Homo sapiens: one gene and its partners. The protein of the gene in region 3 purifies or fractionates together with the protein of the main gene of each other region. This does not show direct contact. Each region holds a gene or a part of one and is shown on either strand. Other genes may lie near its edges. The genes, in order: PJA2, RAB3IP and BBS4.

Region 1 (3,654 bases), on a different chromosome or scaffold from region 3:
GACCAGAAGAGTTCACATGCAAACTCTAAAAAAAATTGTAAAACAAATAATACTAATCCTAATAAATTCTTTTTCAAAAATATAAGAAACACTTTGCAACTCTATGAAACCAGCATTATATGAAAAAGTATCTTTCATGAACATAGATGCAAAAAAAAAAAAAATTTCACCAATTTATAAAAATGATAGTAGATAATACACCATCACCAAGTGAGGTTTAACCACAGAATGGAAGATGATTCAACATTCGCAAATAAGTTAACGTAATTCATCACATTAACACAGAAACAAACCATATGATCATCTCAATAAATACAGTAATAATACCTGACTAAAATCAACATCCACTCATGATTTAAAAAAAAAAAAAAAAAAAACTCTCTGCCAGGCGCAGTGGCTCATGCCTGTAATCCCAACACTTTGGGGGGCCAAGGCGGGCAGATCACGAGGTGAGGAGTTCAAGACCAGCCTGGCCAACATGGTAAAACCCCATTTCTACAAAAATACAAAAAAGTTAGCCAGGCTTGGTGGCGTGTACCTGTAATCCCAGCTACTCAGGGGGCTGAGGCAGAAGAATCACTTGAACCCAGGAGGCGGAGGCTGTAGTGAGCTGAGATGGTGCCACTGCCCTCCAGCCTGGGCAACAGAGCAAGACTCCATCTCAAAAACAACAACAACAACAACAACAACAACAAAAACCTCTCAGCAATCCAAGAATAGAATGGGAACATCCTCAATATGATAAAAGGCCACTTGTCTTAGTCCATTAGGACTCCTATAACAAGCTCCCATAGACTGAAGTGGCTTATAAACAACAGAAATTTATTTCTCGGCTGGGCGCGGTGGCTCACACCTGTAATTCCAGCACTTTGGGAGGCCAAGGCAGGTGGATTACCTGAGGTAAGGAGTTTGAGACCAGCCTGGCCAACATGGTAAAACCCCGTCTCTACTAAAAATACAAAAATTAGCCAGGCATGGTGACATACGCCTGTAATCCCAGCTACTCGGGAGGCTGAGGCAGAATTGCTTGAGCCTGGGAGACCGAGGTTGCAGCGAGCTGAGACTGCCACTGCACTCCAGCCTAGCCGACAGAGCAAGACTCTGTCAAAAAAAAATAGAAATAAAAATAAAAGAAATTTATTTTTCACAGTTCTGGAGGCTGGGAAGTCCAAAATCAAGGTGCTGGTAGATTCAGCGTTTGGTGAGAGCCACTTCCTGGTTCACAGACTGCAGTTTTTTCACTGTGTTCTCATACGGCATAAGGGGATAGGAGCTCTCTGGGACCTCTTTTATAAGCACACGAATCCATTAATGAAGGCAGAAGCTTCATGACCTAATCACCTCCTTGAGATCCCCCTCACAATGGGGATTATGTTTCAATGCTATGAATTTTGGAAGGGACATAAGCATTCAAGCTATAGCACCACTCTATCACACTCAATAATGAAAGATTCAAAGCTTTCTTCTTAAGATCAGGAACAGAGAAGGATATCTGCTTTCACCACTGCTATTCAACATCATAATGGAGGTCTTAGCCAGTCTAAGAAGAAGAAAAGGTGGAAGGAGTTACATATAAATTCAAAAATAATAAAACTGATCTATATTTGCAAATAACATGATTGTCTACATAGGACAATTCCAGAGAATCTACAAAAAATTTACTCAAATGAATGAATTTAGCAAGGTTGCAAGCATCAAGGTCCATATGCAAAAACCAACTGTATTTTTACATATAGCAGTGAATAACTGGAAACTAAAATTTAAGAAAATTATCACTTATAATGGTATCAATTATTAAATACTTAGATATAAATCCAACAAAATGAGCAACATCTTCATGCTGCAACTACAAAATGCTGACAAAGGAAATGAAAGAAGACCTACATAAATGGAGACAACCTGTATTCATGAATTGGAAGACTCAAGATGTCGATTCTTCCTAAATTGATCTATGCATTCGACACAAACCAAATTAAAATCCCTTCAGGTCTTTTTGTAGAAACCAACACGCAGCCTCTAAAAGCTTTACGGTAAAGTTAGAATAGCCAAGGCAATTTTGAAAAAGAATAAAGTTCAAGGATTCATATTACCTAATTTCAATACTTATAAGTAAAAATAACCATGATAACTCAGTACTGGCAAAATTATAGGCATAAAGATCAAGAGAAAAGTACAGGAACAGATTTACATATATGATCAACTGACTTTTGACAAAGTTAATTCAATGGGGAAAGGAAAGTAGTCCCAACAAATGGTGCTAGAACTACATATACATTTGAAAAGAAAATGAGCCTTGACCCTTACTACACACCATATACAAAAACTAACCCAAAATGGATAATGTGCCTTGACATGAAAGCCAAAACTAGAAAACTTATAGAAAAATCCTAAGAGTAAATCTGCACAACTTTGCATTAAGCAAAGAGTTCTTAGAACACAGAAGCACAAATCATAAGAAAAAGTTGGTAAGATGAATTTATCAAAATTAAAAGCTCTTCTTTTAAAGTTAGGAAAATAAAAAAAAAACAAGCTTCAGATTGCAGTGTGTGTGTGTGTTTATGTATCTCTGTGTGTCAAATGAGTTGTATAAAGAATGTATTAAAAAATGCTTACAACTCAATAAGACAAACCCATTTTTTTTTTTTTTTTTTTTTGAGACGGAGTCTCGCTCTGTCGCCCAGGCTGGAGTGCAGTGGCACGATCTTGGCTCACTGCGAGCTCCACCTCCCGGGTTCACGCCATTATCCTAACTCAGCCGGAGTAGCTGGCACTACAGGTATCCGCCACCACGCCCGGCTAATTTTTTGTATTTTTAGTAGAGATGGGGCTTCACCGTGTTAGCCAGGATGGTCTGGATCTCCTGACCTCGTGATCCGCCTGCCTCGGACTCCCAAAGTGCTGGGATTACAGGCGTGAGCCACCGCGCCAGGCCCACCCATTGTTGTTTGTTTGTTTTTTAATGAGCAAAAAATGTCAACAGATACTTCACAAAGGAAGACATACACTAGAGCAAATTCTCAGCACCATTAGTCATCTGGTAAATGCAAATCAAAATCCCAGTATGATACTACTATATACCCACTAAAAGGGCTAAAATTTAAAAGACTGAAATAACCAAGTGCTGAGGATGATGTGGAGCAATTGGAACTGTCATACACTGCTGATGGATATGTAAAATGTGACAACCACTCTGGAAAACAGTTTGGCAGTTTCTTATAAACATCCATGTATCATACAACCCAACAAGTTCCATGTCTAGGTATTTACCAAGAAAAAAAAGATGTTCACAAAAATTCAAAATAAATGAATGTTCATTGAATAAAGGAATGTTCAACAAATGAAGGCTATTTATTAATAACAGCCCCAAACTGGAAACAATCCAAGTATCTGTAAATAGGTGGAATGGTCAACAAACTAGTAAATCAATACCAAGGACTTCTATTCAGCAATAAAATGAGAACCCGTTAAATACAGAAAAACATGGATAATCCTGAAAAACATGCCAAGAGAAAAAGCCAGATACAAAAGAGTATGTATTACATCATTCCACTTACATGAAATTCTAGACAAAATGATACCAATTTATAGCAAGAAAAAGATGATAAGTGCTTTCCTAGTCCTGAGGGTGAAATTGTGATTGACTGCAAAAGGGAA
Region 2 (3,654 bases), on a different chromosome or scaffold from region 3:
CATAAAAAAATATTTGTTAATGTTTACAAATGTCTTTGGCTACAGTTAGTAGAACCAATACTGAATAGGGTTAGTGCAAGTATGTGATTTTCAATGACTCTCTTTGCAAGCTATCCTACTGGGCTTTATTTTCTAAGTCATTTCATTTTCTTTTTCTTTTTCTCTTTTTCTCTTTTTTCTTTTTTTTTTTTTTTTTTTTTTTGAGACGGAGTCTCCCTCTGTTGCCTAGGCTGGAGTGCAGTGGCGCAATCTCAGCTCACTGCAAGCTCCACCTCCTGGGTTCACGCCAGTCTCCTGCCTCAGCCTCCCAAGCAGCTGGGACTACAGGCGTCTGCCACCACACCTGGCTAATTTTTTGTATTTTTAGTAGAGAAGCGGTTTCACCGTGTTAGCCAGGATGGTCTCGATCTCCTAACCTGGTGATCTGCCCGCCTCGGCCTCCCAAAGTGCTGGGACTACAGGCGTGAGCCACTTCGCCCAGCTCATTTTCTTTTAAGAAAAATAAAAGTTTAAAATAACCTCTTACAGCAGATTTCACCTTTTAGTGAATGTAAGAATCAACAAGTTTGATGAAAATGCATATTCCCAAACCTCAACACAATAATTTGATTTCAGCAGATCTGGAGTAGAGTGCAAGGATCTATACTTAATAAGAATGCACTAAAGCCCAATTTCCTCCTGAGAATTCCACTAAAAGCTGCTCTTCAGAAATATCCTATGGAAGGCCAAACAGCTAAATGACTACATCATAATCTCTGGCATCCCTGCACCTGAAAATAAGTGACCACATGATTGGTCCCCCTACACACACAGTATGGATTTGTTGCTGGGAAGTGGTTGTCCATCCAGGGATTACATTACCCAGCCCACCATACATCTAGGTATTGGCATGAAAGGTTCACACCAATAGAATGTGAGCAAAAGTGATGTGTATCATATCTAAGCCAAGGTTTTTTAGAAGAAGCTGTACCTTCTCTAAGCTGTCTTTCCCTTTTGTCTCATTGGTTAGATACAAATAACAATAAAACCCTAAGAAATTACAAAGGCCCCAAACAGAAGAGAAACAGATCTCTGAATTATTTCACAGAGAACTGCCTACCAACTATGAACATCTGCTTCAGAGTGTTAAATGAATAAAAATGAACTTCTATTAGGTAAAGTCACGAAAATTTGGGGGTTACTTATAAGCATCACCCTAATATATCAGGCATGTGTGTATACAAACACTTGTATAACCGCATATACATGTATATATTCATTTAATCAACAAAATGTATTGAAAACCCATTATATGCTCAAGATATAATCATGAGCACAAACATATGCAATCCTTATCCTCATGAATCTCAGAAGTACTGAAGCATGTGTGTATAAATGCAGGTTTTTCTATGTGGATTACTTGAATGGGGTAGACAATGAAGTAATATAAATGAGTAAGTAGAACTTTCACTTCCAATTAAGATAGAGGAACAGGGATTAGATTTACCACCCATCTGACACAACTAAAACTCTGAAAAAATATATGGATCAACAATTTGAAGCATTTGATATTAGGCAATAAAAGACAGTGATCCCCTAGAAATGAAAAACAAAATGTGCACCCCAGATCTGCCCCAGCTTATTATCTGAAGAGATGAAATAATTAGAAACAAAACATTTATTAAACTGCATCCCAACATATTAAGCAGAGCAAGCAAAGTATAAAAAAGATCCAAATCAAACTTTCAGAGATGAAAACTACAATGTCTAGTTTAAAAACATACTGTATGGGATTAACAGATTAGATATTTCAGAAGAAAAGAGTAGTGACTTTGAAGACATAGCAATAGAAACTACCCACAATGAAACACAGTGAGGAAAAAAAGATTTTTAAATGAAAGACTGTAACACCAGCAAGCTGTGAGATAAGTTTAAGCAGTCTAATGTACATGTAATAGGAATCCAGAGGAAAGGAGAGAGAGAGGAAGAATGGAAAACTTTTTGAAGATATAAAGGCCAAAATTTCCCAAATTTTATGAAAACTAACAACCTACAGCTTCAAGAAGCTCAATAAATCCCAAACATAAGAAAGCTGAAGAAACTACACCAAAGCAAATCACAATCACATTGCTTATGCCAGTGAGAGAGGACTCTCATAAGCAGCCAGAGAGAAAAGACCTAATACGCAGAGGAACAAAGGTAAGGGTAACAGCAGACTTCTTGTGAGAAACAATGTACATGCTTGAAAACACTGAAGCAACATCTTTACAGTAACAAAAAAAAAAAAATTATCAATCTTAAATTCTTTACTCAGTGAAAATATCTTTCAAAAACCAAAAATGAACACAGACATACAAAAGCTAAAAGAATTTATCACCATCAAACATGCACAACAAAAATGTAAAAGGATGTCCTTCAAGCCAAAGGAAAAATGATACGAGTTGGAAATCTGGATCCACATGAAGAAATGAATACCAAAGGAATGAACACACAGAGCAAGTCCCCAAACGGATCCTGAGCAAGAGGAGAGTTGGAGGCTCTCCCTCTCCCTCTCCCTCTCCCCACAGTCTCCCTCTCCCTCTCCCCACGGTCTCCCTCGCCCTCTCTTTCCACGGTCTCCCTCTGATGCCGAGCCAAAGCTGGACTGTACTGCTGCCATCTTGGCTCACTGCAACCTCCCTGCCTGATTCTCCTGCCTCAGCCTGCCGAGTGCCTGCTATTGCAGGCGCACGCCGCCACGCCTGACTGGTTTTCGTATTTTTTTGGTGGAGACGGGGTTTCGCTGTGTTGGCCGGGCTGGTCTCCAGCTCCTAACCGTGAGTGATCCGCCAGCCTCGGCCTCCCGAGGTGCCGGGATTGCAGACGGAGTCTCATTCACTCAGGGCTCAATGTTGCCCAGGCTGGAGTGCAGTGGCATGATCTCGGCTAGCTACAACCTCCACCTCCCAGCCGCCTGCCTTGGCCTCCCAAAGTGACGAGATTGCAGCCTCTGCCCGGCCGCCACCCCGTCTGGGAAGTGAGGAGCGTCTCTGCCCGGCCACCCATCGTCTGAGATGTGGGGAGCGCCTCTGTCCAGCCGCGACCCCGTCTGGGAGGTGAGGAGCGTCTCTGCCCGGCAGCCCCGTCTGAGAAGTGAGGAGCCCCTCCGCCCGGCAGCCGCCCCGTCCGGGAGGGAGGTGGGAGGTCAGCCCCCGCCCGGCCAGCCGCCCCATCCGGGAGGGAGGTGGGGGGTCAGCCCCCGCCCGGCAGCCGCCCCGTCCGGGAGGGAGGTGGGGGGTCAGCCCCTGCCCGGCCAGCCGCCCCGTCCGGGAGGTGGGGGTTCAGCCCCCGCCCAGCCAGCCGCCCCGTCCAGGAGGGAGGTGGGGGGCGCCTCCGCCCGGCCGCCGCCCCGTCCGGGAGGTCGGAGGCGCCTCTGCCCGGCCGCCCCTTCTGGGAAGTGAGGAGCTCCTCTGCCCGGCCACCACCCCGTCTGGGAGGTGTACCCAACAGCTCATTGAGAACGGGCCATGATGACGATGGCGGTTTTGTGGAATAGAAAAGGGGGAAAGGTGGGGAAAAGATAGAGAAATCAGATTGTTGCTGTGTCTGTGTAGAAAGAAGTAGACATAGGAGACTTCATTTTGTTCTGTACTAAGAAAAATTCTTCTGCCTTGGGATGCTGTTGATCTATGACCT
Region 3 (3,654 bases):
AATTAGCCAGGCATAGTGGCAGGTGCCCTTAGTCCTAGCTACTCAGAAGGCTGAGGTGGGAGGATCTCTTAAGCCCAGGAAGCGGAGTTGCAGCAAGCCATGATTGGACCACTGCACTCCAGCCTGAGGAACAGGCTCAAAACAAACAAACAGCCAGGTGTGGTGGCTCACACCTCTAATCCCAGCACTTCGGTAGGCTGAGGCAGGCCGATTGCTTGAGTTCAGGAGTTTAAGACCAGCCTGGGTAACATGACGAAACCCCGCCTCTACAGAATATACAAAAATTAGCCAAGTGTGGCCTGCGCCTGTGGTCTCAGCTACTCGGGAGGCTGAGGTGGAAGGATCACTTGAGCCCAGGAGGCAGAGGTTGCAGTGAGCCAAGATCACGCCACTGCACTCCAGCCTGGGTGACAGAGCAAGACTCTGTCTCAAAAAAAAAAAAAAAAAAAAAAAAAAAAATTGCAATGTAAATTATCACATTAAGACATAATTTCATATCCACCATGACTGGTGGCAGAAGCATAAATTGTTACAACCACCATATAGTTTCCTGTAAGTAATAAAGTTACTCCATTACCTAGCAATCTATTTCTAGGTATACCTTAGAGAAACTCTTAGATATTGCATCAGAAGACCTACATAATAATGCTCAGGGCTAGGACTAAAGTGAGGCATGTGAAGAACCTAGGGTATAAACCTTAAGAAGGTACTTACTCTTACTCCATAAAATGTGAACCCTAAGCACCTCACTTACCTTTCCTTAGTCTTGGCCATATTTATAGCAGCTTTTTTTTTTTTTTTTTTTGAGACGAAGTCTCGCTCTGCCAAGCTGAAGTGCAGTGGCACAATCTCGGCTCACTGCAACCTCCGCCTCCTGGGTTCAAGTGATTCTCCCGCCTCAGCCTCCCGAGTAGCAGGGACTACAGGCGCGCAGCACCGCATCCTGCTAATTTTTGTATTTTTAGTAGAGACGGAGTTGCACCATGTTGGCCAGGATGATCTCGATCTCTTGACCTCATGATCCGCAGCCTCGGCCTCCCAAAGTGCTAGGATTACAGGCGTAAGCCACTGCACCCAGCAGCAGCATTGTTTTTAATAACTAAAAACCAGAAATAATCCCGATCTCCATCTAGTGGAATGGATAAGTTAATTGACATACTTTACTACAATAAGATACTATACAGTGTTGAAATAATGAATAAACTGAAGGTTAATAACAAATTTTAAAAACTAATATATTAAGGATATATATAAACATATATGGTAAAACTATAAAAAGTACAAAATATTAATATAAAATTGAAGAAACACTACATCTGATGTGGAGGAAGGAAAATGCAGTAGGAGAGAGGCATTTAGGAGGTTTCAAAGTTATTAATAACCCATTTCCTAACCTGGGCAGTAGGAACACAAGTTTCCATTATATTATCCTTTAAAGCACACATACGACATTTTAAGCACTCTTTTACAGGTAGGATATATTTCACAACAACAAAAATTAATCCTCAAAATAAAAGAGAATACTTATGTGAGGCAGGCCAATTGCTTGAGTTCAGGAGTTTAAGACCAGCCTGGGCAACATGGCAAAACCCCGCCTCTACAAAATATACAAAAATTAGCCAAGCGTGGCCTGCACCTGTGGTCCCAGCTACTCGGGAGGTTGAGGTGGAAGGATCACTTGAGCCCAAATGAGGGGCTCATTTGGTTAATGATCTTGATTTAAAAATTCACAAAAATTTATAAAGACATTTCACCAAAGAGATACGGGTGGAAAATAAACATATAAAAAATCTTCAATATCATTATTCATGAAGGAAATACAAATTAAAACCACCATACACCATCACTACCCATCCACTACAACAGCTAAATAAAAACAAACTGACAAACCAAGTGTTGACAGGGATGTGGAAAAATCACAACCCTCATGCATTGCTCATGGAAATGTTAACTCGTATATAGCCTGCAGAAGTTAGGCAGATTTGTTTCTGTTTTTTTAAACAAATACTTAAACAATATAACCCAGCAATTCCATTGACACAGGAACCCTTCTGGAGTGATGGACATGTTTTAAAAGCAGCCTCTGATGACAGCTGTGCAACTATATAAATTTACTAAAACTGATCAAACTTTGTACTTAAATTGAGTAAATTTTATGGTACGTGTATTATACCTCAACAAAACTGTTTTTTAAATGTTAACTCAATTTTTTAAAATCTAACTAGAATTTCTTAACTTTGGGGAATATACTACTAAAGAATGTTAAAGACTCAAAAAGCACCTTCAAAGGTCAGCAACCCTTCTTTCTGCACAAAGCAGAATTATTTTTTTGATGAGTCTTTTACTCAAGACTTTCCAGAACATTTTGAGATGGAAAGGATTCTATTAGCCCACTCAATCTCATTCATAGGATTTATATAGAACAAATTATTTTATTCTGTTATTTCTTCATTTTTATATAGTTTTATGATCATTTATTCATCCAACAAATATTCATGGAGCACCTGATACATAGGCACTATATCTGAGCCAGATCAACTAGTGTACTAATTTCTGTTTTCTGCTCTTATCAGTTTAATCCTTCAATTTACAGGATGACATATTTATCCAAATACATCAAATAATGGGAATCAGGGCATTATAAAAAAAATTTATAGGCTGGGTACAGTGGCTCGCCTGTAATCCCAGCACTTTGGGAGGCTGAGTCGGGCGGATCACAAGGTCAGGAGATTGAAACCATCCTGGCTAACACGGTGAAACCCCGTCTCTACTAAAAATACAAAAAATTAGCTGGGCGTGGTGGCAGGCGCCTGTAGTCCCAGCTACTCCGGAGGCTCAGGCTGGAGAATGGCGTGAACCCGGGAGGCGGAGGTTGCAGTGAGCCGAGATCGCGCCACTGCGCTCCAGCCTGGGCGACAGAGCAAGACTCCGTCTCAAAATAAATAAATAAATAAATAAATAAATAAATAAATAAATAAATAAAAAGATTTATAAGCACAAATCATGAAAGCCAGAGTTAGTTGCTCATTCATTTTTTGTTTTTTTCAGACAAAGTCTCACTCTGCCCCTGCTGGAGTCCAGTGGCATGATCATGGCTCACTGGAGCCTCAACTTCCCCCAGGCTCAGATGATCCTCCCCAGTAGCTGGGAAGACAGGCGCGTGCCACCACGTCTGGCTAATTTTTGTGTTTTTTGTAGAAATGGGGCTCCAACATGTTGCCCAGACTGGTCTCAAACCTCTGGACTCAAGTTATCCTCTCACCTCAGTTTCCACAAGTCCTGGCATTACAGGCATGAGCCACCAAGTACAGCCTGTTTGCTCATTTTTTAAGAATTCTAAACTATACTGAAAATACAAATATTAGTCCTCAGTTTTCCTTCTAAGGAACTGGTAGCAATCCGTAAGTAATTTTGGTAGCATACTAGAATTTCTGCGTCCCACACTGGGCTAGTTTTACTCAGTTTTGATGGGGTGTCTTCTGGCCTCAAGGCCTTGACTGTAGCCTTCTTAGATTTTTAGCTATACATTTCTTCAAAAATTCTGTGAGTTTTGAGTCTTTTCCTTTTCTCTCCTCCATATCCATATATCCTTATCTACGGATCTATATGTTTTCCTTTGTGTTATGAAATTAAGATCACATAATATACCCCACT

The links.
Region 1: the proteins of BBS4 (region 3) and PJA2 purify together in Homo sapiens (affinity purification with western blotting, with the first as the bait; one study listed by BioGRID). This does not show direct contact.
Region 2: the proteins of BBS4 (region 3) and RAB3IP purify together in Homo sapiens (co-immunoprecipitation; one study listed by IntAct). This does not show direct contact.

The regions. Positions count from the first base shown.
Region 1 is NC_000005.10:109,403,408-109,407,061, forward strand, and holds part of PJA2 (E3 ubiquitin-protein ligase Praja-2), read right to left. Parts: intron 1-3,654.
Region 2 is NC_000012.12:69,759,305-69,762,958, reverse strand, and holds part of RAB3IP (rab-3A-interacting protein isoform alpha 1), read right to left. Parts: intron 1-3,654. UniProt on the Homo sapiens protein: Guanine nucleotide exchange factor (GEF) which may activate RAB8A and RAB8B. Promotes the exchange of GDP to GTP, converting inactive GDP-bound Rab proteins into their active GTP-bound form.
Region 3 is NC_000015.10:72,689,110-72,692,763, reverse strand, and holds part of BBS4 (BBSome complex member BBS4), read right to left. Parts: intron 1-3,654.